Homo sapiens: one gene and its partners. The protein of the gene in region 1 binds, or shares a complex with, the protein of each later gene. Each region holds a gene or a part of one and is shown in the gene's direction. Other genes may lie near its edges.

What was found.
Region 2: INTS2 (region 1) and INTS9 share a complex: the UniProt entries of both Homo sapiens proteins name them as parts of the integrator complex.
Region 3: INTS2 (region 1) and INTS12 share a complex: the UniProt entries of both Homo sapiens proteins name them as parts of the integrator complex.
Region 4: INTS2 (region 1) and INTS4 share a complex: the UniProt entries of both Homo sapiens proteins name them as parts of the integrator complex.

Annotation. Positions count from the first base shown.
Region 1 is NC_000017.11:61,924,983-61,932,956, reverse strand, and holds the start of INTS2 (integrator complex subunit 2), read left to right. Parts: upstream 1-4,974; 5' UTR 4,975-5,016; coding exon of another isoform or gene 5,017-5,022; 5' UTR 5,023-5,303; intron 5,304-6,294; coding exon of another isoform or gene 6,295-6,312; coding exon 6,313-6,605; intron 6,606-7,857; coding exon 7,858-7,974. UniProt on the Homo sapiens protein: Component of the integrator complex, a multiprotein complex that terminates RNA polymerase II (Pol II) transcription in the promoter-proximal region of genes.
Region 2 is NC_000008.11:28,774,967-28,781,987, reverse strand, and holds part of INTS9 (integrator complex subunit 9), read left to right. Parts: intron 1-993; coding exon 994-1,165; intron 1,166-4,034; coding exon 4,035-4,159; intron 4,160-6,061; coding exon 6,062-6,229; intron 6,230-7,021. UniProt on the Homo sapiens protein: Component of the integrator complex, a multiprotein complex that terminates RNA polymerase II (Pol II) transcription in the promoter-proximal region of genes.
Region 3 is NC_000004.12:105,705,680-105,713,500, reverse strand, and holds the start of INTS12 (integrator complex subunit 12), read left to right. Parts: upstream 1-4,811; 5' UTR 4,812-4,863; exon of another isoform or gene 4,864-5,600; intron 5,601-7,077; exon of another isoform or gene 7,078-7,119; intron 7,120-7,526; exon of another isoform or gene 7,527-7,622; intron 7,623-7,821. UniProt on the Homo sapiens protein: Component of the integrator complex, a multiprotein complex that terminates RNA polymerase II (Pol II) transcription in the promoter-proximal region of genes.
Region 4 is NC_000011.10:77,956,655-77,963,675, reverse strand, and holds part of INTS4 (integrator complex subunit 4), read left to right. Parts: intron 1-2,537; coding exon 2,538-2,723; intron 2,724-3,284; coding exon 3,285-3,335; intron 3,336-4,841; coding exon 4,842-4,930; intron 4,931-7,021. UniProt on the Homo sapiens protein: Component of the integrator complex, a multiprotein complex that terminates RNA polymerase II (Pol II) transcription in the promoter-proximal region of genes.

The DNA of each region.
Region 1 (7,974 bases):
CGTGCCCGGCCCTCTCAAAATACTTTTTAGTGGGAGAGACAGAGAAGTTCTAACAATTACAATATAATGTGTTAAGTAGTATAGCTGAAAGAAGCAAAAGGTGCCTTGAGAGCATAGAATAGGGATACCTGATAAGTTAAAGGGTAGGTGGTTTGTCAGGGAAAGGTCTCTTAGCAAGGGAACACTGGAGGTGAGACTTAAAGGACACTTAGGAGTTTGCATTAAAAAAGAGAATGAAAAGCATTCTAGACAGGAGGAACTGTGATGAGAAGGTCCAAGAATATTGAGAAGGATTTGAGACATAAACAGTTCCAACTGACTAAAATGACACCATGGTGGGATACGGCAGGACTCCAAGCTAGAGTTTTAAGTCAGACCATAAAAATCTGTTTTTGGGTTGGGCGCAGTGGCTCAAGCCTGTAATCTCAGCACTTTGGGAGGCTGAGGTGGGCAAATCACCTGAGGTCAAGAGTTTGAGACCAGCCTGGTCAACATGGTGAAAACCCATCTCTACTGAAAATACCCCAAAAAATTTAGCCAGGCATGGTGGTGGGTGCCTGTAATCCCAGTTACGCAGGAGGCTGAGGCAGGAGAATCGCTTGAACCCAAGAGGCAGAGGTTGCAATGAGCTGAGATTGTGCCACTGCACTCCAACCTGGGCGACAGACTGAGACTCCACCTCAAAAAAAAAAAATCTGTCTTAGGGCTTGGCACAGTGGCTCACGCCTGTAATCTCAGCACTTTGGGAGGCCAAGCCGTGCAGATCACTTGAGGTCAGGAGACTGACACAAGCCCGGCCAACATGGTGAAACCCCGTCTCTCCTAAAAATACACAAAAATTTAGTTGGGCATGGTGGCAGGTGCCTGTAATCCCAGCTACTTGGGAGGTTGAGGCAGGAGAATTGCTTGAACCTGGGAGGCGGAGGTTGCAGTGAGCCAAGATTGAGCCACTGCACTCCATCCAGGGTGACAGAGCGAGACTCTGTCTCAAAAAAATATAATCAATCAATCTGTCTTTTTAGTTCCATCCTAAAGAAATTCAACTTTATCCCAAAGCAGGGTAGTGTTTTAGTAGTTGGGCTGATTTATAAAACAGTCTCATACTTGAGCCTTGATTGGTGGAGCTATGTCAACCTGGAGGGATGTCTCTAATGCTGAACTAGAAGTCTTGGCTGGACCCAATTCTATTCAATGTTTTATCCATAATATTAATGAAGATATGATCTGCTAAGCTAAAACAGATAGCCAGTGTAAAAGAGTCAAAGATCTTTACAGGCTGAAACATGAAAGAATATATATATTTTTTGAGATGGAGTCTCACTCTGTTGCCCAGGCTAGAGTGCAGTGGCGCAATCTCGGCTCAATGCAACCTCCACCTCTCGGGTTCAAGCGATTCTCCTGCCTCAGCCTCCCAAGCAGCTGGGACTACAGGTGCACACCACCACACCCAACTAATTTTTGTATTTTTAGTAGAGACAGGGTTTCATCATATTGGCCAGGCTGGTCTAGAACTCCTGACCTCGTGATCCACCCGCCTCGGCCTCCCAAAGTGCTGGGATTACAGGCATGAGCCATCGTGCCCTCCTGAAAGACATCTTACAAGATAAAATAGTCACACTATAAAGAGCATCATGTTGAGCAAAATGGAGCTAGATGTCTTCTGAGATCCTTGTGCTTCTGGAATTCTATGACTATTTCTGAAGGACATTGGTCCTCACCTTTGTATAGTTAGGTCTTCTAACTGCTGGAAGCTCAATTACTCTGCAACCTACATTAAGCACCTAGTATACATGAAACATAATAGATATTCTAATGTGTTTTTCTGTTTTTCTCATTTTTTCATTACTTGTGTTTCTCTCTTCCTCCAGTCTGATTGAAAAATAAAGTAGAAGAATAAAAGCAAGCTGGTCAAGCCAGGTGCAGTGGCTTGCACCTGTAATCCTAGCACTTTGGTGGACTGAGGGGGGACAGATGGCTTGAGTCCAGGAGTTCAAGACCAGCCTGGCCACATAATGAAACCCTGTCTCTACAAAAAAATAGAAAAATTAGCCAGGTGTGGTGATGCATGACCATAGTCTCAGTTACTTGGGAGGCTGAAGTGGGAGGATCACCTGAGCCCAGGAGGTTGAGGTTGTAGTGAGCCAAGATCGCCCAACTGCACTGCCGCTCTTTTCTTGAGAACTTGTGTCGAAAAGGAAAAAAAAAGAGAGGCTGGGTACAGGGACTCATGCCTGAAATCCCAGCATTTTGGGAGGCCAAGGTGGGTGGATCAGCTGAGGTCAGGAGTTTGAGACCAGCCTGGCCAACATGGTGAAACCCTGTCTCTACTAAAAATACAAAAAATTAGCCAGGCATGGTGGCAGGCACCTGTAATCCCACCTACTCAGGAGGCTGAGGCAGGAGAATCGCTTGACCCTGGGAGGCGGAGGTTGCAGTGAGCCAAGATCGCACCACTGCACTCCAGCCTGGGTGACACAGCGAGACTCTGTCTCAAAAAAAAAAAAAAAAAAATTAGCCAAGTGTGGTGGTGCACACCTATTGTCCCAGCTACTCAGGAGGCTGAGGTGGGAGGATTGCTTCAGCTTGGGAGGCAGAGGTTGTAGTGAGCCGAGATCGTGCCACTGCACTCCAGCTTGGGCAACAGAACGAGACTCTGTCTCAAAAAAAAAAAAGTTTTATTGGCAAACATTACAATGTTTCAATGATTATAAAGATTTTTGCTAAATTAATACAAGGGGGAGAGATTAGAGTCTAGGATGACTTTTAGGTTTCTGGCTTGAGCAACTCAAGGTCAAGTTGGTGAACTGGAAGAAAAGGAGAGGGGGACTTGGAGGAAGTGTCAGCACTCATTATGTGACACTGCAGCCATCTCATTCAGTGATTTTTCTGTTTCTCCATAGATCAAGATGGAGATACTGAATCTGCATGATGTTTCTCCATTAGTGAACAGAGGATCATAATTAGAGTTGGAAAGGATCTTTAAAATCACTTAGTTCATACCCACATCTTCCTCTCATTCGTCCCTCAAACCAATGTTTGCACTGCCTTCACACTTTTCCTGTGAAATGACCATCCATGGAGATGAAATTGCTTACCCTCTCTCAGTTTCCACAATTGCAAAAGGCGAATATTACCTACGTCACAAGATTGAATCAGATAATATATATAAAGCATTTATTACAGTGCCTAGCAAGTGTTCAATAAATAAATCCCAAATATTAGCTTAAAAATGCTAGGACAGTACAGTGTGCAACCCATTAATAGAGTGTGAAATCAGTTTTAGTGTGCAGTGACCAGCAGTTTTTTAAAGAGAAGTAGAAACATGTAGTGTGTGTGTTATTATACGAAATATTTGTTTCCATGTAAATGTGGGTTTATATGTTATATATTTATATGTTTATATAGCATATAAATTTATACACTTACACTTATTTTTGTATGTGGATATATACATATGTTTTTTCTGGGTCACAATGTGAAATGTATTATTGTGGGTCAGGTGGAAAAAATTTTCAGAAGCATTGCAACACACAATTCTTTTCTTCCTTTGCTGATCTATGTTGAAAGTCATATATATATATATATTTTTGAGATGGAGTCTGGCTCTGTTGCCCAGGCTGGAGTGCGGTGGCATGATCTCTGCTCACTGAAACATCTGCCTCCTAGGTTCAAGTGATTTTCCTGTCTCAGCCTCCGAAGTAGCTGGGACTACAGGTGCTCCATCACCACGCTGGGGTAATTTTTTTTTTTTTTTTTTTTTTTTGAGACGGAGTTTCGCTCTTATTGCCTAGGCTGGAGTGCAATGGCACGATCTCAGCTCACCACAACCTCCGCCTCCCAGGTTCAAGCAATGCTCCCGCCTCAGCCTCCCAAGTAGCTGAGATTACAGGCGCACACCACCACGCCTGGCTAATTTTTGCATTTTTAGTAGAGGCGGAGTTTCACCATGTTGGTCAGGCTGGTCTCGAACTCCTGGCCTCGTGATCTGCCTGCCTCGGCCTCCCAAAGTGCTAGGATTACAGGCATGAGCCATCGTGCTCGGCCTAATTTTTATATTTTTTGTAGAGTTGGGGTTTAGTCATGTTGCGTCAGGCTGGTCTCGAACTCCTGACCTCAGGTGATCCGCCCGCCTCGGCTTCCCAAAGCGCTGGGATTACAGGCATGAGACACCACGCCCGGCTCTGACTTTATTTTTAAAGAGGTTATAAAGTGCTATATCTTTGTAAAATATTTTTATTTCCAGCTCCTAGCACAATATCTGGTAAATAGAAGTTGCCAAATAAACGTTGATCGAACTAGGAACAATAAATAGTATGAAGACATATGGACTAGCGGTTCTTCATATATAGACTAGTGGTTCTTTTCTGAGTGATCAGACTTCCTTTGAGAAGTTGTTGAAAGTTTTGGACCCTCTTCCCAGAAGAAGTGCCGAGCACTCAGTTCTGAACGGATTCCAGAGAATTCCTGAATCCCCGTGCATTGCCTCTCTAAGGTTCTATGGGTCCCCCAAGTTAAGAACCTGAAAGGAAGGTGTTTAACTTCTGACAGCGGAGGTGTGAGGTCAAGAGCGGAAGAAAGTTTGGGGTTAGATCACTTTTAAAATTCTCCCACAAATCCTGGGATTCTAGAATTTTGGTTCTGGGAAGGCACAGGCAAAGATTTAAAGAGTACAGTTTGGTACCACTAGTGTCAAAGAATAGTGGGAACGATTTTAACACACGTTATGCCATTTGAATGCCATGGCAATCCTGTGATGATGAAATTTAAGTTCTGAGGGGCTCAGTGGCTTGCTTGTCTAAAAGGAAGGAGCTGGTAGGCTCTGGAAATCAGAGCCTACCAGAATCACATTTCTAAATTTTTGGCGAACAAGTAGGGCAGGGCAAATAAAGTGGAGAAAGGGGCGGGGCCGCGCACGCGCACAGTTGCATTGGCGCCGACGTCTCTGCCTTTCCTCTCGCAGCCACCCTTCCTCTCAGACCAGTACGGTGGCCGACGGGAGTCAGACGCTGGGGATGAATGAAGGTGCTGGGTGCAGGTTGAAAAAGTCTCCCGCTTTTCCGTTCCTACAGTCCCGGTTCTGCCTTTGTGTGGTGCCCCCATCCTTCCCACTTTGTATCGACAACCCGGTTGGTCCCGGCGTCTGAGTTCTTGGTGTCCGAGTCGACTCGAGGCACAACTAGGGTTTGGGGTTCCGGATATCGCCTAGGCCCAACATCGGACCGCGCTCTCGATTTCTGCCGCGTCCCGCCTCTAGGACGCGGAGTCCGTGTGCGGTTCCGTGAGGCTGGAGGGTAGATCTTAAGGTATGAAGCGTCCGCTTCTCTGGCCTCAGCGCGTTCCTAGGTCCGTGTCGGAGCCTGGCCAGACTTTGCTCAGCCTGAGGGACTTATTGGTTCTAGTTGCGCCCGGGGCGAGACGGAGGAGCACGCAGGTCTTGGCTCCTCTGCTCCAGTCAGCCCGCCCCTCTGTTAAAAGAGCAGCCCCTCCCTGAAAGCAAAGCAGTTTTTACCCACGACTTTTACCCACGCTGCTGCTAGTCGGTCGGCCTTGAGAGGGGACTGCTTTGGCTGCCAGCTCACTGCCTTTTTGTTTACTTTTTGTGCCTTGGATGATTCCTGGAGACAGAGAAGTGCGCTAATGAGACGCGTCTTTCTCACATAGCACCCACACATCTGCTTTTTACCCGGTAACACAGGGGACATAGGATAGTGTTGTGGCCTCCAGAGCCTTGAATCTGGCATTGGTTCTGCCCAGTGATTTGCTAGTTTTTCCACCGACTCATGGAGGGTGAGAAAGAGAAGCCCAATAGTTCTTGATGTATATCGGGGTAGGCATGTGAAACTATCGGGGTATGAAAGAAAGCACTTAACTATGACCATTCACTTTTGTTTACATTTTGTGGAGCTCATGTGACTGATATAGTGGAGAAAGTCTTGGACTGGGATTTTAGTAGATGAGGATTCAGCCTTGGATTGTGCCTCTAACTAGTAATACTATTTTGGGCGTGTTACTTCATCTCTCTGGGCTTCATATTCCTTCTTTGTAAAATATGAGTATTAGAGCAGAAGATTCCTGAGGCTGGAAGAGACATTAATATACTCTGTTTTCTTTCCCATTTCCCAGGTGACAGTATAAACCTAGGGAGACAGAGAAGCCTTGTCTTGATTGTGCCAGGAACATTGCCAACATAGGGACCTATTAAAGATACACCACATTTTTCAGGGTTTTTAGAAAGTTGGGTGTTCATACATGTGAAAGTTAAACTCCTACTTTCATTTGTATTTTTACCATTAGGATCAACAAACAGTAATAATGACTGAATGTACAAGTCTTCAGTTTGTCAGCCCTTTTGCTTTTGAGGCAATGCAGAAGGTGGATGTTGTTTGCCTGGCATCTTTAAGTGATCCAGAATTAAGACTTCTTCTGCCCTGTTTGGTACGGATGGCACTTTGTGCACCTGCTGACCAGAGCCAAAGCTGGGCTCAGGATAAGAAACTCATCCTTCGCCTTCTTTCTGGAGTGGAAGCTGTCAACTCCATTGTTGCATTGTTGTCCGTGGACTTTCATGCTTTAGAACAAGATGCCAGCAAAGAACAGCAGCTTAGGTAATGTTATGTTATATTATATGTGGATTTGGATTTGACAAAGAACAGGGAATCAGATATTTTTTAGAGCTCTCCAGAAAAGAGAGAATGAGAATCTAAATTCTGGAGAGCATTTTACTTAGGTCTTTTCTGTATATAGTTACAGTTCCAGAATCTTTTGACTTCCATGTTATAAAATGTTATCTAGAGAAATATGGCAATGTGCTGTTGTATGTGGGCTAAACTCATTAGGCCAATTACTTTCAGTGGGAAGTAGGTAGGGTAACTTCCCCTAGATTAGAGGGATTTATTGGAATCACTTGGGAGGCTTTTTTTTTTCTTTTTTGAGACAGAGTTTCGCTCTTGTTGCCCAGGCTGGAGTGCAATGGCGTGATCTTGGCTCACTGCAACCTCAGCCTCCCAGGTTCAAGCGATCCTCCTGCCTCAGCCTCCCGAGTAGCTGGGATTACAGGCACCTGCCACCATGCCCGGCTAATTTTTTGTATTTTTAGTAGAGATGGGGTTTCATCATGTTGGCCAGGCTGGTCTCCAACTCCTGGCCTCAGGTGATCCACCTGCCTTGGCCTCCCAAAGTGCTGGGATTACAAGTGTGAGCCACTGGGCCCAGCCTCTTGGGAGGCTTTTAAAGCTTAGATATTCCCAAAGATTCTGGGCAGGTGCTATGTCCTTCCCTGCCCATTGTGAATCTAGTAGCAAGCCACCATCAGTGGAAGTGAGTGTTAATTGTCAGTTGTGGTAGAGTATTTATTTATTTATTTTTATTTTTATTTTTTTTTAGACCGAGTCTTGCCCTGTTGCCCAGGCTGGAGTGCGGTGGCGTGATCTCGGCTCACTGCAACCTCCACCTCCTGGGTTCAAGTGATTCTTCTGCCTCAGTCTCCCGAGTAGATGGGACTACAGGCACGCGCCACCATGCCCGGCTTTTTTGTATTATTAGTAGAGACGAGGTTTCACCATATTGGCCAGGCTGGTCTCGAACTCCCAACCTTGTGATCCACCTGCCTCAGCCTCCCAAAGTACTGGGATTACCGGCGTGAGCCACTGTGCCTGGCCTATGTGGTGGAGTATTTATTATACGTAGGATGTGAATCCCTGAAATACACAGGCAAACTAAATAGCATTTCAGAAGTAACAGAACATTTTAGAACACTTTATACATCCTTTTATAGCTTATTTCAATAAAAGATAATTTTTATGCAATTATTTCCATATCAGTGTTTTCATAATTGTTACATGTTTTGTACTTCATTAGGCATAAACTTGGAGGAGGCAGTGGAGAGAGCATCCTGGTATCACAGCTTCAGCATGGACTGACGTTAGAGTTTGAACACAGTGATTCACCTCGTCGATTGCGTCTTGTGCTTAGTGA
Region 2 (7,021 bases), on another chromosome or scaffold:
CCAGAGAGGTGCGTTTGCTACGGCTGATGAACCCACATTGACACGTCACTCTCGCCCAAAGCCCAGAGTTTACAGTAGGGGTTCCCTTGGCGTTGTGCTTTCTATGGTTTTGAACAAATGAACAGTGACCTGGATCCACCATTACATCATCACACAGAGGAGCTTCCTCACTCTGCAGATCCTCTGTGCTCAGCCTGTTCATTTCACTCTCCACGAATCCCTGGTGACCGCTGAGCCTTTTACTATCTGTATAGTTTTGCCTTTTCCAGAACGTCATACAGTTGGAATCATAGGGGCCTTGGCTTTTCAGAGTGGCGCCCTTCACTTAGGAATAGGTTCCTTCATGTCTTTTCGTAGCTTGGCAGCTCATTTCTTTTTTAGGGCTGAATAATATTCCATTGTCTGGATGCATCAGTTTCATCCTTCACCTGCTGAAGGACACATCTTGGTTGTTTCCACGTTTTAGCAATTAGGACATTCATGTGCAGGTTTCTTGTGGACATGATTTTTCAAAATATCTTTCAAAGTGGCTGTATCCTTTTGCATTCCCACCAGCAGTGAATGAGAGTCCTTGTTCTTCCATATCCTTGTCAGCATTTGGTGCTGTGAGTGTTCTGGATTTTGGCCATTTTATTATAACAGGTGTATAGTGGTATCTCATCATTTTAATTTGCAGTTTCCTAATGACATACGGTGTGGAGCATTTTTTCGTATGCTCATTTGCCATCTCTCTTCTCTGATGAGGTGTCTGTTCAGGTTTTTTGCCCACTTTTTAATAGGGCTGTTCATTTCTTTTTGCTGAGGTTTCGGAGTTCATAGATTCTGGGTCACAGTCCTCTCTCAGGTGTGACTTTTGCAGGTATTTTCTCCCAATCCGTGGCTTGTCTTCTTTGTTGGTATTTTAGATCCAGTCCCGCTCACCCTCCCGTACTTTGGTTCCCCCTTCAGCCTGGGCAGGCTCACATTTCTTTGTATTTTTTCTATATTTTCCAGCTCATTCAGACCAATAAGCTGAAGCACTACCCCAGCATCCACGGAGACTTCAGCAACGACTTTAGACAGCCCTGTGTGGTGTTCACCGGGCACCCTTCCCTCCGCTTCGGGGACGTGGTCCACTTCATGGAGCTCTGGGGAAAATCTAGTCTCAATACCGTCATATTCACGGGTAAGTGAAAAAAATAAAGAAACAAATTGGTTCTCTCCACTGAGGCCATGAGTGAATGCACCTACAAGGTAGAGACCCAGGGAAGGATTTTGCAGTGAGACATAAATACAAACATTGTTCTACTGTAGGTACCAAAGAATGAAGAAACCGCAGAGAAAGAGTGAAGCAGTGTGTGCCATTGGACAGCTGGGCATCCAGCGAGGCCTTCATGCCTGTGTTTTCAGATTTCTCCAAGACAGAATCCTGCTGAGTGCTTTTGCTAGGATATCGTAAGCCATTTCAAGAAGTGCAGTGATTCAGTAACGGTGTTGTTTTACCTGTTAGGAATTGTTTACAGAGGTAGATCTTTTTCTTCTGATTGTGGTTTACTCTAACTGTGGATTTTCTTCTGGAGACAAATCCCTCAGGGGAAAAAATTCCTTTGATAAGGTCAAGTAGAGTGTTTACATAGATAATGACTGTATCATTTTATCAGTGTAGCGTGCCCAGCCCTTTGAATGCTAGGTCTTTTTTGCTTATCTGTGATAGGGGATATCTTGGAAATTATGCACAGACCTTTTTTTTTTTTTTTTTTTTTTTTTTTTTTTTTTTTTTTAGCTCATCAGTCATCATTAGTGTTAGTGTATTTTATGTGGGGCACGAGATAGTTCTTCTTCCAGTGTGGCCCAAAGAAGCCAAAAGCTTGGACACCCATGGGTTAGGGTCTTCAGTCGGCCTTGGGTTTTAGAAATCTTACAGGCTATGAAGAAAAAAGAAAAAAAAAAAAAAACCTTGATTTGAAATCTGGCCCAGCTTGCAGCAACCTCAGCCAATTCACCAGCAAGCATGACTGTCCCCACAGTAAATGGGACTGTCAGTAGCTACCTCTGTGGGTCACTCTGGGCACCAGGCACAGAACCCGGCACATGGCGGCTGTTGGGAAAGCACTGTCACCAGCTCCCTTCCTAGCTTTAGGAGCTGGGAATCCAGTTACACCAGAAGCACTGGGGTGACGCTTCAGCCCTTCCCCCAGCTTTCATTTGTGACCTAGAGGCCACCAGGAACACGCCTGTGGTCAAACCAAGTTGGGTTTATTGCCTCATTTCAGCAAGGGGAACACACACCATGGGTAAAAGAAAAGCAAAAAGACCTTGCAGGACTCCGGCTGGTGTTCGGTGATGCGCAGGTGTTCGCGGAGGTGAGGCGTCACCCTGTATTGGGTGGCGTCAGGATGCAGGGTCATTCTGCGATGGGTTTCTTAACTCATTCTTATCTAGAACACAGGAAGAATGGAGCCGGCATAGCGGGAAGTTTGCTTATGCTGTGGTCAGGAAAGTTCTGTGTTCCGTGTTCAGGATGATTACAGAGGGGTCTTGTCTTTGGCCGGATCCATCATTGTCAGACAAGGTGTTGGTGTTCCAGGAAGTTGCGTTCACACAGCAGGAGGACACATGGCTTTGCTGTGGGTGCCAGGCCGGCTCTTGCTGATACCAGGCCAGGCAGAAAGTGCCAGGAGAGGCCCCGGTCACCAGGACTGCTTTCCTCTTCTCAGGCCTGCTTTGGGCTAAAGGTGGAGGAAGTTGGGCCACAAGATATTGATTGACAACACCCAGAACTTCATAGCTGCCAAGATTTCATTAATTAGGAGGTTGTCCAGAGAATGTCCTATGTAGTGGGGCTGAGGTTGGTGTCTCCTGCTCCTGCTGCTGAGTGGTGACTCGACATTTGACATGACAGTGGTGACAGCATCTACACAGCACAGTAGATAACCTGGCCTTTAGTACAAATGTTTCTTCAGCTAAAAGGAAATCAGGACTGTGTGATTTCCTGTGACAACTCTGGGTAATGGGTTTGCATTTAAACTGGTTTATGGGGCTTCCAGGGCAGAAGTTGTGTCTGGGAGAGGTTGGGGCCATCTTTTTTTATTGTTTTGTGACTCCTGGATACATGAAAAGGGGGTCAGTATTCTCAGAGAAGCACAATCCACTGGAATGGGCATTTATGTACCTGGCAGCTCTGCCAGTTTGTCCTGACAACAGTGGAGACGTCTCTGTGTCTGGTGTGCCTAAGCCAGGGTCCCTCGTCGCTGGGCACAGACTGTGCTGGGAATCAAAGTGTCACATCAGTTAGGACCGAGCGAGGTCTTTTGGCTCAAGGCAGGCAGCTCCCTCGAGTTGGGGGAATGTTCCCTGCCAAGCAGGCTGCAGCAGCCCTCAGGAGACAGGCTGAGCAGAGGGCGAGGACTCTTCCCGGTCTGAGGGGCTGGGGCTGCTGGGGAGCATCCCAGTCTCAGTCTACAGACCATTCACGGGCCTGGAGGCGGGGCCGTGCGCTTGTCTTCCGGGTGCATCTCACACCTGGGCGTTAACTCAGAGCTGATTCTAGGTTCCCGGGTCTGTACCAGGCCTCTCCACTGTGAAGTCAGTTTTTCCCATTGTATTAAATCAGTACCTTGTGGGGGACTCTTTGAAACTATATACATATTCTGTTCTCCCTCAAAATGGTATCTGATATTTTTAGCATTTGTTGATGATTTTCATCTGAATAAGTGATGAACTGTAATGGTTGCCAAACGGTGGTTTTGGTTTTTATTTCATCGTTTGTTTCTTGGCATTTCGTTGTAAAAAGAGCTTTCTTTTCTCCCCCACATATGTATTTCTCCCTCATTTACCTCATCTGCCTCTGCTGAAGCTTGGAGCCCACCCACAGGGTCCATCCCAGCCTGCCCCTCCTTCCACGGGGCCCCTTTGACCTCCGTCCCCCACGTGTGCTTCCTGGCTCCCTCCTGACCCCCTGACTGTCTGTGGGCCCTCAGCGCCCCAGTTGCTGTCTGGCTTGGCAGCTCCTGTGTAGTCTGCATTGTAAGATTTCTTTCTTGTACTTTCCCTAGAACCAGACTTCTCCTACCTGGAAGCCCTGGCTCCTTACCAGCCGCTGGCCATGAAATGCATCTACTGCCCCATCGACACCCGGCTGAACTTCATCCAGGTGTCAAAGCTGCTTAAAGAAGTGCAGGTAATGAAGGACACTGCTTGTGCCTTCACGTAGTCATGTCACCTTGGTGTGGCTCATGCTTGTGTGGGGTGAGGGGAGAGAGATCTAGCTGTGTTTGATTCTTGTCTTCAGTTCTCACGCATCTGCAGAATGCTGGGACACATGCCAGCCCCCCTCCACACTGAAAAGGAGTGGTCTTTACACCCTGACCGCAGTTTCCATTCTAAAGAAATCAGATGTGGAAGGGAAAGAAAACCATCTGTGTCCGCTTAAAAGCAAACCCTCTCACCCCTGCCAAAAAAAAAAAAAGTCATTCTAGAAACATACTCACTAAGCTGAGACAGTTTAAATGAAACGCGTTACTGGGGCCGTGTCGCACGTGTAGGCTGGTACCACAAACAGTGCTGTCGGGTTTGGGTTTTGTGGCAGTTTTTGGTCATTTGTTTCACTTCACATTTTCTGCCCTGGAGAAAGGGAAGAAGTAGCTGGGGTGCAGTGTAGACCAGGAGGCGCGCGTAGCAGGAAGGCAGGGCCACGGAACCACTGTGCTGGCTCAGCCACTGCTCGCTGGGTTTCTGGCTCTTGAGAGTCGGGAGAGGAACTGGAATTGGCAAGGAGGACAGCTGACACCGGCGAGGAAGAGCTCTCCCTTTCCACTCCCTGGTGTTCCCAGGAGTGAGATGAGGGTGGAGGGGCCCAGCACAGCACCTTCAACCTCAGGATGAGAGAGGCCCTTTCACAAAACTCTAAGGCAGGGGAACAGGAAACAGAGAAAGCCGGAGAACCCCAGGAGGGCCCCAAGAGCGGATTCTGGTGATTATTAATGTGCTTGCCCAATGAAGAAAGAATACTGGCACTCTCTAGGTATGATGAGAGCAGACAGCAAACGTGGGGCCTGTCTACAGTGATTCGCTACCCCAATGTATGCTCATCCACGTTAGAAGCAGCAGTGAAAGGCGTGTTGCTTTTCATTATTAACTTCAAATCCCAGTCCCTAAACCAGCTCTTGACGCCCCTCTGTCAGGTGCTAATCCTGGAAACTGGAGGCCACCTGGTCTCCACTTTAGGTGAGGAAAACCTGGGAGAAGCCATCAGACTGCACCTGTGGCATGAGATGCTTTGAGACAGGTCAAGAGGAGGAGCAAAGGGCAGTTTGGAGGAGAAAAGTATTAGCCCTAAGGAACAAGTGCTTTTGGAAGCTCAGCCCGGTCAGCCTGGTGGAAAGCCGTCTTCAGCAGGGAATTCAGGGCTTGGTCCAAGCTCTTAAGTAGAAGCAGGGACAACACAGTGCCCCTGTGGGCTGCCAGCATTCCTTTTCATTTGGGTGATATTTGTGCAAAGTAAAAATTGGTTTACTAATCTTTTTTTCTCAAGATAACAAAAAGAGACATTTTGTTTAAAAAAAAAAACAAAAAAAAAAAACTCTGCCTCTGCTCCTTGGTTGCACATGGTGAGCACATGAGCTGAGGAGTGCCCACTGCCTAATACCAGCTGACCTGCAGATCCAGCGGAAACTCCAAACCCACAGCGCCAGCCCGGCACGAAAAGCCACAGCTCTTGGTAATCAGCCAAGAGCTTATAATAGCAGGCATGTGGGAATGTTAGAGAAAGACCGTGCCCCGAGGAAGCCCAGAGACCGCTGGGAGCAGACACATGGAAGTTACCGTGAAACTTATGTAAAGAGTAAGAAAGATAAATTAAGCTGAGGCAGTTTAGGGGTTTCCGAGATGTTTCTTCTGCCCCAGTGCCTTCACGTTCCCTCTCCTGTCTACGGTTCATTGGGCTTGAGAGGATGAAAGTTCACCTTGGCCTGGAAGTGGTGAGCCTGTAATGGCGGGGAGTGGATCGGGGTCAGGAATGGGCCTTCCACAGGGGCCACTGTACTTCACACCACCTTTCTCAACTGTCCCATTGGTTCCTCAGCCCCTGCACGTGGTGTGTCCTGAGCAGTACACTCAGCCGCCCCCAGCCCAGTCCCACAGGATGGACCTCATGATCGACTGCCAGCCCCCCGCCATGTCCTATCGGCGGGCTGAGGTTCTCGCCCTGCCCTTCAAACGTCGGTACGAGAAGATCGAGATCATGCCAGAGGTGAGCTGTTCTCCTTCCTAGGGTTAAACTAGAGCTTTCCACAGAGGCTCTTGGAGATCGTGCAGGGGTGGCCTTCTTTTGGATTTATGTCAAGTATAAATGAACCAGGCTGCGCGCAGTAGCTCACGCCTATAATCCCAGCACTTTGGGCGGCCAAGGTGGGCGGATCACTTGAGGTCAGGAGTTCGAGACCAGCCTGGCCAACCCAGCCCAGCCAATATGGCAAAACCCCATCTCTACTAAAAATACAAAAAAAGTAGCCAGGTGTGGTGGCACGCATCTGTAATCCCAGCTACTCGTGAGGCTGAAGCCTGAGAATCGCTTGAACCAGGAGGTGGAGGTTGCAGTGAGCCGAGATCACACCACTGCACTCCAGCCTGGGCAACAGAGTGAGACTCCAAGTATGAATGAACAAAGAACATGGACCCTTAACCAAGTAACCGGGAAGAGGGGGGATTTTCAGGGCCTTCTTGTTTTTCAACTAATAAAATAACAGCTGTTAGTCAGGACTGCTCCTTACCTAGCATTCAGCAGCGTGAGCCCTGGGCCACATCATGGGTCAGAGCCCTGGGAAGTGGAGATGCTGACACCCGCTCTGTCCCTAAATACCATAGGATGGTGACTTTTCTCTTCCTTCCTGGACCTCAGTTATGAGTGAGTGTCAAGAGTTTGCTGAATTCAGAGGTAGATGGGGGAGATAACAGGAACCAAAAAATAAGGATTGTAAACTTGGTTATTTATATCCTCTTGAGCATACTTGCAGGTTTTGGTCTATCAAAGTCTAAGTATTTT
Region 3 (7,821 bases), on another chromosome or scaffold:
ATATAACAGTACTATTTATAAATAAAATTTCATAAATTGAAGCAATTTTACCAAAGTGAAAATTGTCAGATATTATGTTATTCTAAGCAAGTATGCTGGTTTCAGTAATCCTTGATATAAACTTCCATTCCAAAGGCTGGGTTATTTGACAAGTTTCTGCACTGGATTAAATTCTTTGGCAATTCTTTCCTGATTCCTTTCATTGGCTACTCTGCAGATGTCTCAGTGACCCACAGCTCAGTGTTTTGCTCTCTGCTCAATCCACACTCCATCCTTCGAATACTGGCTTTCAAACTTTTGAGCATGCCACACAATTAGGTATATATTTTATAATGTAACACACAATACACTGAATAAAATAGAAACAAAAATGTCATGAAGCAATACTTATCCTACAATATGGGATAAATCTGATATTTTTTACTCTGTGCTTGTTTTTTTAAATGCTGGTTGTTACTCATTACATTGATTTCCTGACTCATTAATGGGGCACAACTCACAATATGACAGCACTGTTCTGGGTGATCTCCAGTGCCATAGCTTTAAATATGATCTGACTCTTACATGTATATCCCAGCCGTATCTTCTCCTCTAACTCCAGACTACTATATTCTACTTGACATCTCCATGTGGATGTTTTTCTAAACCTGCTCCCCTTCCCTTCGTGTTCTACTTCCTGGTAAAATGGCAACACCAATTACCCAGATGCTTAGGCCAAAAACTCAAAAGTCCCACTCAACTTCTTTTTTTCTCTCTCTCATACCCTGCCATCTCTACCTTTGAAGTATATGCTAAATCCAACTCCTCAGCACCTCTACCACTACCACCTTAATCTAAGTCATCGCCAGTGCTTACAAGGACTACTGCAAAAGCCTATTAACTATTTTCCTCCACTTTCCATAAAACAGTCCATTCTCCAACAACAGGGTGATCCTTAAAAACATAAATCAGATGTCTCGTGCTCAAAACCATCCAATGGCTCTTCAGCACACTCAAAATAAAATCCAAATTTCCTATTATGGCCTATAGGCCTACTGTGACCCTAGCTATCCCTTTCTGACCTCATCTCTTATCCTTCTTCACTCCCTTCCAGCCATAGCTGTCCTTGCTGTTTTTGGAAGGTGCCACTTGAGAATATTTGTACTTGCTATTGCTTTGCCTAGAATGCTTTTCTCCAAGAGATTCACAGGGCTTGCTCCCTCATTTCATTGATTTTTCTGCATAAATATTAACTCAGAACAGCCTCTCCTGACTGCCTGAATTGAAAAAGCACACCCTAGCCTCTTACCTAGCTTCCCTTTTTCTTCATAGCTCTTATCACCTAACACTATAACATCTCCAGTGCTTAATGAACTGAAACTTTAGTTCAAGGAATGAATGTACATATATGAATGTCAGAAATCACTGTCTGAGAGTATTATTAATAACTTTAGTCTTGGTACAATGTGTATCTCATTCTTCATGACACCATTCTTTCTTTTCCAAATTAATAACTCTATTTTAAGGACCAACTAAGTATAAATTAAAATGAAGAAATAAGATCACCTTTGTGAGGTGAATCGGGAAAAGTATAAATGGAATCTAACCAAACTCATAAATAAAGCAAGCACAGAAGTTTTTATGTATACTTATATCCAGGGCAAAGGAACTAAGAATCTTAACTAGATTCCATACATGTGCCTAGCAAGAATATTTATAAAACAAGAATTATAAAGTAATAGATTAGAGCCGAGACTGTTGAGCCAGACCACCTGGGTGCAAATATACTGGTTCTGATTCTTAGTAGCTATAAAAAACTTTTCTGCATATCTGTTTCCTCACTTATATAATAAAATGGAGACAATAATAACTGTACCTACCATGTAGTGTGCCATACAGAAAAAAGCTTGTCACATATTAAGTCCTTAAATAAATACTAGCTACTATTATTTCTTTATAATTTATAACCAAATTCCTTATCAACTGGCACTATTAAAATATGCAAACCTTGATGGGCAAAACCCAAATTATGGTTTATATTTTCAAGCTTCTTTCCATGAAAGGTAAAGGATTTATATTGATTGAAAAGTTTTTCCCAACCAAATACTGAAAAAAAACATATTTGTTACTGAGGCTGAAAGCCAGGGAATCATGAAATGGTAAAATATAAACGTGAAACCCTTAATCCATGTGCATATCAACCTATTGTACAAAATAAGAAGTTCAACACAGTTTATAAGTATGAAAAATCACAAACACTTACTTTTCTTAAAGATTAAAATTTAAACCTGCCTAAATTCTCTCCTACATCATATGTTCAACATTTTGAATTTTATAACTTATCTTGTGTTTTATGCTTTTCATAAAACAACAGTATTTGGCTGAAAATTGTACCCTATTTTATTACAATAATATAGATTTAACCAAAACAAAACAAAACAAAAAAACATGCCCCTCAACAGATAGATAGCAGCCAATTACCTTAAATATTTAGGGTCAAAAACGATAAGAAAAACACTGAGATTTTTTCAAGCTCATTAAATACGTAATATGGGATGCAGTTAAGTCCTAGAGAACAAAAGCCAGTGATTAAAATTAGCTGTTTTCTTATCTGGTAAAGAAGTAGGAAAAGTTTTTAAGTGAAAAGCTTACAGTAACCTTAGCCACAAACGAAGTGTGTAATCTCTCTGGAGAATCAGGGAATCATCTGTTGCCATGGAGTCATAATGCCTTCAGCTAAACCCGACCTCATAATTAACAGTGATCGACAGCGCAAATGGCTAACATGTTACCAAGTATGAAATAAAATTACTGAATTTTCACAGCAAACAATACCTGTGCTTGTTTTAATCTAAATGGTTTCAATATCTGCATTCCAAGTATTTATTCTTTGTTAGAAAAGCTAATTGGATACTCAGTATTTATTTTTATTTAAAAATCACAGATGATGAAACAAAAGCTACAAGTAAAACAAGTTTAAAAAAACAAAAACAGGCCGGGCGCGGTGGCTCACGCCTGTAATCCCACCACTTTGGGAAGCCGAGGCGGGCGGATCATTTGAGGTCAGGAGTTTGAGACCAGCCTGGCCAACATGGTGAAACCCCTCCTCGACTGAAAAAAAAAAAAAAAAAAAAGGAGCCGAGTGTGATTGTGGGCGCCTGTAATCCCAACTACTCGGGAGGCTGAGGCAGGAGAATTGCTTGAGCCCGGGAGGCGGATGTTGCCATTGCAATCCATCCCCAGGCGACAGAGCAGGACTCCAGCTCAAAAAAAAAAAAAAAAAAAAAAATTGATGGGCCCACTACTACAGAAGCTCAAGTTTGAGCTGTGTTTAAATTAAAGCAAAAACACGTAGAAGTGCAAAGTATATAAAATAAAAAGAAATGATGATTCTCAAATCTCATTGACCTTTTCAGTCTTATTTTTGAAGTGAGACCTCACAAAACGATACTTTCAGGTGTAATACAAACACAATTTTTAGTAATGAGTGTGCTTAAAGCAATCCTCTCAGTGGTGTATGCTCCCCATCAGGCAGTTAAAAAAAAAGAAAAAAAAACCCGCATAGCTTAATGTTTATTAAATATGACAGCGAATCACTTAGTTGTGTTATAACAGTTTATTATCATGGATTTAAATGACTATGTTTACATGTTTAAAATTATCACATCACTAGTTCTTGCTAGCTTTTGCATTTTCTCCTGTAAACATTGTTTTTACAGATAAGCTTAGGTAAAATAGAAATACACCACCTTCTTTATCAATAATGTAGCACACAATATATTACTAAAGCTGGCATTTTCTTGATATTCAAGAATTTATGACAAGGAATGGGATCCTGGCATTAAGAATAAAGGGGAAAAAAACAAGTCATCTCATCCCAAAACCAGGTAGAAAGTTGGGATGGGAAGTACGTGTATTAGCAAACGTTTTTGAAACCAAAGCAACTTTCATGCAAATTAAACTTTCTATAGAAGTTAAAAACCCAAGAGATACTGCTGTGATGACAAAACATAAGCAAATGGCCCCAAATGAAGCAAGTCCTTTGGAGTAAATGTTAAGTAGTATTCACATAGAACTGCTTTCTGCAATCAGGAAGGGCTGGAATGGAAAACTCAATGCCAAAGAGAGAAGAGAAGTTAGTGTGACCCAAGAGGTCTTGAAGTAACACTTAACAGCAAATATCAAACCACCCCAACCAACGCCTCCAACTGGAAGCTGCCCCATTTCTCCATCAGCAGAGGAAGACATGAGGGACTGGCTAGGGGGAAACTGGGAAACGCGTACTACCGAGAAGCCCAGAGCCCTCAACCCGCACCTTCAGCAGGAGTGGCCAAAAAGGAGTTTGAGGCGGCCCCAGGGCGGGAGAAAAATCAGGACGATGATACCACGCCCTTGTCCTTCCCACCCTTCCCCCGCATCCTCAGCCCTGCAGACCCCCGAAGAAAAGACCAGTTCTTAGGGGGTCGCGGAGGCTGAGAAGCCGGCGGCCCGAGCGCCCTCTTTACCTGGTCGCAGAGGCGCGGCCAGGCAGGGAGGGTGCGTGAGCGTGTCGGCGACCTGGGCCGCCTGCGCCTTCCCGCCCAGTCCGAGCTGGAATTCCAAGGCTGCCTCTGGGAGCTGCTGCCCGCAGACCACTCGCCTCCACAGACGCCAGGAGAAAAACGACAGCCACCTTATGTGGAAAATACTCGCGCCGGCCGTCATTCATAATCCGGCGGACCGGAAAAAGGGAAGTAACGTCACTTCCTACTGTCGCACTGCCAAACGTTTCCCCCGCCCCTACTGTGGGAACCTTTGTTTTCCTGCTTTCGGAGCCGGCCAGTGCGGGAACCGTTTCCGAAGGGACCACCGGGAACAGACGGATCGGCAGGGCGGGGCGGAACGGTGAGTTATGCTGAGCGACTCTGCTCCTGGCCTCCTGGAGGCTCGAGACCCCCGCGCCAGGAGCGAGGTGGGAGAGTAGCTACGTGGGGTATTAGTTTCCTCGCTCCTCAAGGGGAATCATAATTTACGGGCGGTTGCGTGCCCTAGACTGACTGCTCTCCCCTTTCAGTGAGGACTGTGCTTCCTCCGAGGGAGTTGCGGGCCGGGACATGCGGACCGAGCATATTTCTAGGTCTAGGGACAAGGGACTTGGAATCCTGCCTCGGACTTTGTCGGAGGGTTTTAGTGACTTCTCTACGTAGCTCCCTCATTGTCTCTCATCTTTTGGCTCCCCTGTCAAGGACCATCCCCCATTCTAGGACTTCGATGTGTGATGCTTTGATCAAAGGATTGACATTCCTTTTCTAAGTGTTTGCTGTCAGCTTTCAGCCACTTGATTGGTTTGGAATCGGAGCCTTTTCTCCTGCGATTCCAGGTGTCCCTAAGGTATCAGTGTTATCCAGAACCAAGAACTCAGTGGAGGAATGAAAAAGGCAGCATCTTTAAAATAATGTTTATTGGAAGGGGTTGCAAGAGCTTGCGAAGTCATGAAGAACAAAGTTTTTTAGAGCCATTATGAAATGGCAACGATAATACTGCACTCTATGTGAACAGTTTCTGTTTCCTTCATCTGGGGCACGTGCATATGATCAACTTTGGACTTCTTTTGAGATTGCCAGGTAGGGTGAAAAATGGATCTAGGAGAAAGCACATACTTATATTTATATATGAATGCCCAATTTAGACTGGAGAGATCACAGAAGCCTTATAAGGTGACATTTACGCAAAAAACCTAGTTCGTTCATTCGATAAATATTTTTGAGCCCTTATTAAGTTTCAAGCACTAGGGAAATAACAGTGAACAAAACAAGTTCCTGCTGTCATCAAGTTTACAGACCAGTGGGATTAATGAATTAAGCAAGACAGGCGAAAGATTGTGAGAATTTTACAGATAGGAACATTGTACTACAAGTCCCCAGTCGTGAAAGAGGTGATTGCTTTGCTTTTGCTTTTTTGATGTTTGGAGTTTTTTTTGTGGGGGCAGGGGTGAGTTACTTTTGTGATTTTTGCTGAAGGGACCTTGGAAATGGCTACAATTGTGTAGAAGGAGAGATAAGACCACTATACTTTGATCACTTAATTCCAGTAATTCTATAGCCATTATTTTGTTGTACTTTGCAAAGTGGCAAAGAGATAGGCAAAAAGATAAATATAGACTCTGCCCTTAAAGTACTCAGAGTTTTGTAGGGGACATAACACTTGTGCCAAAAAAAAAAAAAAATGCTTCAAGGGAGAAAGTTGCAATACCATGAAAAAGCACTATGAGATATCCTTGAATGGAGAGACTATTAATAGGGTTTGGAATGGAGAGGGGCACAGCAGCTGTCAGTCAAATCTTCATGAGAAGTATTTGAATAGGGTCTTGATAGGATGTAGATATATAAAAATAGGTAAAGAGCTTCCTGGACAAAAAAAATAAGAGTGGCAGGGTCAGCTAGCTATAAGGCAGATCTGGGGATGATGAATGATAATTTTTGTGCCAGTTACTGAATCTTCTTAAATGCTAGGCCAAGAAATTTGGTCTTTATTTCGAAGGTGGTAGAAAGCCCTAACTTCTCAGCAAGAATTTTTTTTTTTATTTTAATGAAAAAGAAGAAAACTGGGTTTCAGGAAAATTCATATGGCAACAATGTTGAAGTCAAGGAAAATAACGAGGTTATTGCCATAGTTCAAGTAAGCTAATAAAACCTGAATTTCAGTAGTAGCAGTGGAAGTGAAAAGTAGGACAAGTGTGAAAAATATTGCCGTCAGAATCCACAGGAATTCTGATTATTTGAATATAAGGAGTAGGGAAAGACTCAGTGAAGGAAAGACTTTGGTCTCAAACCTGACTAAAAGAAAGTTGTGTCATTTATTGAAAGTAAGAGCAGGACAAGGAACTTTTCGGGAAGATAATCAGAATCTCAATTTTAGTTGTAACTGAATTTGAGATGCCATTAAGGAATCACATAGACACATACACTAAGCATTTGGAAACATGGGATTCAAATTTAAGAGATTTGGCTCGCACTTGTAATCCCAGCACTTTGGGAAGCCACAACAGGAGGATTGTTTGAGACCAGATAAGAGCAACATAGCAAGACCCTGGCTCTACTTAAAAAACAACAAAATTACCTGGGCATGGTTACGGTGGTGCATGCCTGTAGTCCTAGCTGCTTGGGAGGCTGAGGCAGGAGGATCACTTGAGCCCAGGAGTTCGAGGCTGCAGTGAGCCATGATCTCAGTGCACTCCAACCTGGGTGACAGAGCAAGACCATGTCTCAAAAAAAAAAAAAAAAAAAAAGAGATTGAAGTTGGGGTAAAACATATTAAATCATCTACCCAGAGATGATAGTTGAAAACCTGATGTGTATAAGATTACCAAGAAGAAACTGCTAGCAGAACTAAGAAGATAGCCAAGGACAAATACTTGGACAATACCAAAAGCAACAAAGAAGATAAGCCAAAGAAAGAGTAGTCAGAGATAGAAGAGGAAAAACAGAAAAGTTGAGTATAACAGAACTCAAGGGAAGAGAAAGTTTTATGAAATTGGAAGTAGATAACAAGTATTTACTTGGCCAACATTTACAGTTATTTGCTGTTTTCCAGGAACTCTGCCAGACAGGGGTTACAACAGTAGGCAAGACCAATCCACTGCCTGCCTTCATGGAACTTACATTCTAATGAGAAAGAAAGATTATTTACATAATTAACAGTGTGATTAATATTACAAATAAGTACAGAATGTTTTTGGGCTATGTAACAGTGAAACTTCTAGTTTTGTTGAGGGAATGTGCAGGAAAAACTGAAACTTGAGAGGTGACTTAAGATGGAGGTGGGGGTGGCACACTTTCTACTGAAGTGCTAAGGTAAGAAAGA
Region 4 (7,021 bases), on another chromosome or scaffold:
TGCTGAATGGATCAGTATGTTATTTTTATCTTATTCAACTTCATTCTCAGATTTTGTTGATACACAGAACCATTTATTTTTTTAATATATAGCAAAATTGTAAATTAATTTTTATTTTTGACACAAATTGGTCTTATTATTGGGGATGTGGTTTCCTTACTTGCTCCATTAATATAAAAATTATGGCACTTCAATGGCCTGACAAAATGTGTAACACCCAAATAGCATCTGCAGACACTTAGCAATTTTTTTTAATTAATAAGTTTTTATCCAACAGTATAAAGAAAAGCAGTTTTTTTTGTTTTTTTTTTTTTTTTTTTTTTGAGACGGAGTCTCGTTCTGCGCCCGGCCAGAAAAGCAGTTCTTAATGATGATGACCTTGATGCAAGAAGTGACTTGTAAGGGAAGGACATCATAAAATTGTAATTGTTTCCCTGAGAGCATGAGACTCTCTTTTGGGCTAAGATTCAGTGTGCAGTAATACATTGATTGTGCATTATTGTTGCCTGGTTGACAGAAGCTAGAAGTATTTAGTTTATTGCTTGAAAATCAAAGTGTTTGTAACAGAGGTGCAATCAACAGTTTAGTCATGAGAAATGATGTTTTTATACTAAATATAAATAGTTCATTTGTTTTGTTTTTGAATTTTAGGGGGCGCGGTTTGAGACAGTCTTGCTCTGTTGCTCAGGCTGGAGTGCAGTGGCGTGATCTTGGCTCACTGAAACCTCCGCTTCCTGGGTTCAAGCAATTCTCTGGCCTCAGCCTCCCGAGTAGCTGGGATTACAGGTGTGTGCCACCACACCTGGCTATAAATTTTTTTTTTAAAGAAATGGGGCCTCGCTGTGTTGTCCAAGCTGGCCAAGTCCCATTCACTTTTCTCCGCACTAGTGACTCACTTTGAGAATCATTATCCATTAGTGGGTAATGTGACCAATTTCATGAGACGTAATTTTTTTTTTTGAAAAAAAATAAAATACAAGTACCAGAGTAAATCACAAGCTATAAGGTAAATATTGTTTTGTTAAACTTGCTGTATGTCTGTTTTTATGTACTGTCTTGCAATATTATGTGTTTCTTACTTTGGGTGCTAGTCAAAAGAAGTTTGAAATCCAGAGTTTTGTACCATTTTTATTACCTCATTTCTTCAAAGTATTTTTAATTTATGTTGCTATGTTATGCAAATAGCTTGTTTTAGTAGCATTGGACTAGGGTAATGCAGGAGGAAAACTGATAATTTATTAAAATTCGTGGTGAGAGGTGCTAAAATAAAAAATATTGATAGTACTAAATGTCAACAAGGATGTGGCACATCTAGAACACTTATGCAGCACTGGTGGAAGTGTAAATTAGTACAGCCATTATGGAAAACTATTTGGCAATATCTTCTTTTTTGGAGGCAGTATCTCACTCTGTCATCCAGGTTGGAGTGCAGTGGCATGATCATGGCTCACTGCAGCCTCCACCTCCGAGGCTCAAAGGATCCTCCTACCTCAGCCTTCTGGGTAGCTGGGACTATAGGTGTGTGCCACCACATGCCTATAGTCCCATTTGCCCAGGACAGTCTTGAACTCCTGGGCTCAAGTGATCCTCCTGCCTTGGCCTCCCAAAGTGCTGGGATTATAGGCATGAGCTACTGTGCCCAACTGGCAGTATCTTCTTAAGCTGAAGCATGTCTTGTTACCTATCAATTCTACTTCTACATATATATCCAACAAAAATGTGAACATGTACACCAAAAGCCACATACAAGAATAATCACAGTAGCATTATTCGAAATAGCCAAAGACTGGAAATAACTTAAATATTCATCAACGGAAAGGCTAAATAGATTTTCATGTATTTACAAATGAATACTATATAAGTAACAAGAATAAATGAACCATTGCTATCTGCCATACCTTGCATAAATCTTACAAACATAATAAGCCACAGAAGCCAGATGCTATTTGATTTCATAAAGTACAAAAATAAACAAATGAACCTGTGTGTTAGAAGTCAGGATAGTAGCTATTTTTGGTGGTGATGTGGTGAGGTTGTTGCTGGGAGGAGGAATGAGGGATATTTCTGGAGTGTTGGTTATATACTATTTAATCTGGGTGCTTGTTATATATGTGTATTTGTGAAAATTTATTGAGCTGTACACTTAAGATTTTGCATATTTCTATGGATATTAAAAGTTTTAAAAATTTATACATTTTTGTCTGGTTTTAAAATTTGAAAGCAAATAAAACGCAATCAGGGACGAATTTTAAAGTACCTACTCTGTACAAGGCAAAGTGCCTTTGTATTCCCAAAGCTATTGGGAATACAAAGATGAAAAACTAGGACTTTTATTTTCTAAGGACTCATTTTTTTTGAGAAGACCCGTACTCAAGTAACATGATGCTAGACAGACTGTCCTAAGAATATAGGTCTTGAAATCACCCCTAAGGTTGCTGCAATGCTTTTGTTTCTGGTCTTGTCTGTGTTTGTTAAGATATCTTAATCATGTCCTTTTTTTCTTTTTCTTTTTTTCTTTTTTTTTTTTTTTTTAATAGCATCTGACAGATACGTCTCATGGTGTAAGAAATAAGTGCCTGCAGTTACTTGGCAATCTTGGCTCTTTGGAGAAAAGTGTCACAAAAGATGCAGAAGGCCTAGCTGCCAGAGATGTCCAGAAGATTATAGGGGATTACTTCAGTGACCAAGACCCACGTGTCAGAACAGCAGCTATAAAAGCCATGGTAAATGTGATTATGGAAACTAGTTGGGGCTAGTGTTCATTTTTGTTTTTTAAGTTTATAGCTAGTGCTGCCTTGGATACATTGTAAATTCTTCAGCATATACTTTCAGGAGGGTATTGGTGGTGGCCTCGCAGAACTCAGTGACACACATTCCTGTATACAAGTGTGCTTTTTTGGCTTTCTCTGGTAGCTTTCATGTGTATTTATGAAACATGGAAAGCACAATAGGAACCTGTTATAATTCCTTCGACTTGGAGGCATATGACTTGGTATGATATTATAATAGGGGGAGGTGGTGTTAATCATTTTTTCTTTAGGCTTCATATCATTATTTCATATTTTTCTAATACCTTCTTGGGACAGTCCATGGGTTAGATTTGTGAAATGCTTGAATGCTCCTATTGAAAGACGACAAGGTTTCTTATTTATATAGCACTAATTTTGGCTAAAAGGAACCATGTTAGCCTGATACAATAGGGGAAAATATGTGAGATTGTGGGGAGACATTGGAAATATTGCTCTTTTCCTCCCAAGCACTTAAACTATATATTTATTATCTAGTTGCAGCTCCATGAAAGAGGACTGAAATTACACCAAACAATTTATAATCAGGTACCTTATATGATTACTGTCTGGAAGGGGTTGGAGGTATCATGAAGCTGGGAGGGCGGCACACAGGTTCTCAGAATTTGAAAACGTAAGGACTTCGCTAGTTAATAGTGGCAGCGTTGATTGGGATGGATGTGAAGTCATATTCAAAACATACTTTTCAGGAAGAGAATGGAGGTTATGTAATTAAATAGCGCTAGTACATGTGAAAAGGACTTTTAGGAGGATTTACAAAGTTCAGTATGAGAATGAGAGTACCTGAAGAAAAGTGTAGCATTTAGAATAAGGAACGTGTTAGTCTTTCTGATCACTGTTTGGTTGGGCCGTACATGAACTCATTTCTGGGCACCACACTTCACAAACTAGAGTGTGTCTGGAGAAGGGTGACCAAGACCGTAGGATCATATAAAAAAAAAGTCACATGCATGTAGTAGTAGTGGTAAAGAAAGGTATAATGAAGTTGTGGAAAAGCTGATTGATGGCCAACCAAAAGGCCTTATGAGGCTGTATTTCTCTTGGAGGATAATTGACTGAATCTGGTAAAAGGAATCTAAATCCACGTTCAGAGATTAGGTTTTGTTAGCCTGCCAAGAGTGGTTTTATCTCTCATGGGAAGAAGATAATTAGCCAAGCCCCATCACAGATGTGTAAACCAAGTTTATTCCTCTATTGAATGAAGTAGAATGGGTCCAGAATGCTTGTGGTGGTGTGACCATCGCCTTCTTTTTCTATAAGAAAACTATGTGGGAAGCCAAATAATTCAAAGGAAACTTGGATCGTAAGGACTCAGAGGAAGGGAAGTTAGTTGGCTGATTCAGATGTTTGGTGGCGTAAGACTCTGTTAGTAATCTAGGCAAGCAGTAATGACAGCATCAAGGGAGTGAGGATGGACTGATAGTGTAGAATTTAAGATATAAGGTAGAATTTGCTTCCTTAATGAGTTCAGGTTTGCGTGTGTTGAGTATAAAAGTTTGATGGGACATCCATGAAGAGAATTCCAGCCATAAGTAGTTATAAAGGCCTGGAGATCAGGAGAAATCAGAGCTAAGGGTAGGTATTCAAAGCCATCAGTATTTAGGGAGTATGGGGCTACCCAGAAAGAGTGAGTGGATTGAAACAGAGGCCAGTGATTTCAGACCAAGGTAAACAGAAGTGTGTGCTTTGATTTTTACAGGGGGAGGAAAAAGCCATAATTGGTGTTTGAACCTGTGAGAACAGTACTGTTTGCTCCCAGCATGCTTTGCTGGGTTTGATCTGTTCTAGATGTTTTTATGCTGTCAGTCTGTGATTCTCCTTTCAGACATGGGGTAGGGTGCATAGTCAGAATACAGCCAGAGCAGCTGACAGAGGTCAAGATTCATTTTTAAGCAAAGATTCCAGAAGTTAAAACCACACACAAGTGTTTTACTGGGCATCCTTATCCAACCACCCTATCTTCACTTTGAAAATAGTTTAAACATTGCCTGAGAGGACACAGAACTAATAGACTTTTGGAATTCTTCTTTGCAGGCCTGTAAATTACTCTCTGATGACTATGAACAAGTGCGCAGTGCTGCAGTCCAGCTTATCTGGGTCGTCAGTCAGCTCTATCCTGAAAGGTCAGTGTGGGTGTAAGCTGGCTTTTGTTGATTGTGAAGCCGTTTTCCTCTCCTCTCACCATGCAAAAAGCCCACTTCTAGAAAAGAAATGTTGGTTACATTTTTGGAAGGCAATGGGGAATAAGGGAAAAGCACAGGCCCTGAAAATCAGATTGCCTGGTCCTCATTTTTCATCTCTGATAGGAACTTTCTGTACACTTTGGAAAGATACTTCACTTCTTTTATCCTAACCTTCTCATCCATAAGTGAAGAAATTGGAATATCTTTCTTAAATGGTTTTCAGTACTTTACAAAAAAATCTTTAAAATTGTTTGGGACCCATTTTAGTTTGGCTTGTGCCAAATGCCAGATAAAGATACCAGATGAGTTTGAGAATAATGATCTCTTATGTAGTTTTCCTGGTTAAAAATATTTTCACAGCAATTAAATTAACCACAGTGATTCTTTGAGGAGGTAGGCAATATTATTTATTATATTTTGTAAGATAGAATATTATATTTATAAATGTTTATTTATCTTTTATTTATAAATATTTATAGAATATTTTATTTTTCCTTGTATAGGAAAAAGGGGTGTTTTTTCCTGTTCATTAAACTGCCAGAATTTGAAAACCAGAATGAATTAATAAACCTGTAGGAGTAGGCTCCATTTGTAGTGTTTTAGGACTTAGACACATACAAAGAAAAGGGCTAACTGGAAATTGTGTCTTCTTTTAGGACTGGATTGATAAGTAAGTTTTATATTGATTTATTCTGAGATTTACTGTATTTATAGAAGTTCAGTCTGGACACGGTGGTGCCTGTAATCCCAGCACTTTCGGAGGCCGAGGTGGGCGGATCACCTCAGGTCAGGAGTTCAAGACCAGCTTGGTCAACATGGTGAAACCTCGTCTCTACTAAAAATACAAAAATTAGCCGGACATGGTGGCACACGCCTGTAATCCCAGCTACTAGGGAGGCTGAGGCAGGAGAATCGCTTGAACCTGGGAAGTGGAGATTGTGGTGAGCTGAGATCACACCACTGCACTCCAGCCTGGGTCACAGAGCAAGACACTTTCTCTCAAAAAAAAAAAAAAAAAAAAAGAAGTTCAGTTACAGAAGATAATAAACTTAAGGATATGAAATATTCGGTGGAAGCTAGTTTTTGATAATTTCATAAATCTTTGAACCTTTGGTGGGTTACGTACTTTTTTTTTTAAGGCAGGGTCTTGCTCTGTGGCCCAGGCTGCAGTGCAGTGATGTGATCTCGGCTTACTACAACCTCCAACTCCTGGGTTGAAGCAATTCTCATGCCTGAGCCTCCCAAGTAGCTGGAATTACAGTCGCGCACCACCACACCCAGCTCATTTTTTGTACTTTTAGTAGAGATGAGGTTTTGCCATGTTGGGTAGGCTGGTCTTGAACCCCTGGCTTCAGGTAATCTGCCCGCCTCAGTATCTCAGTGTGCTGGGATTACACGCCTGGCTGAACCTTTGGTGGGTTACACACTTTTATTCAATACATTGAAAATTTGCACCTGGTTGCAGTGACTCAGCCCTGTAATCCTAGCACTTTGGGAGGCTGAGGCGGGTGGATTGCTTGATCTCAGGAGTTTGAGATCAGCCTGGGCAACATGGTGAACCATCTCTACTAAAAATATAAAAAATTAGCTGGGTGTGGTGGCATGCTTTTGTAGTCCCGGCTACTCAGGAGGGTGAACTGGGAGGATCACCTGAGCCCAGGAAGTTGACACTGTGGTGAGCAGTGCTCACGCCACTGCACTCCAGCCTGGGCGACAGAAGTGAGACCCTGTCTCAAAAAAAAGCATAATTTGCAATGCAACTGAAAGAGTTGGTTTGTACTCCCAGAGTGATTTGTTTATTCCAAACTGTATTTAATCATTCTAGGATTTGAACTATTCAATTATCATTTTTGTGTGTGTCAGTCTTCATTGACTGTTCTCAGTTTATTGAGCCTGCAGCCTTACTTACTTATGTATTTATTTGTTTATTATTATTATTATTATTATTATTATTATTATTATTATTATTATTATTTTTTGAGATGGAGTCTCGCTCTGTTGCCCAGGCTGGAGTGTAGTGGCACTATCTTG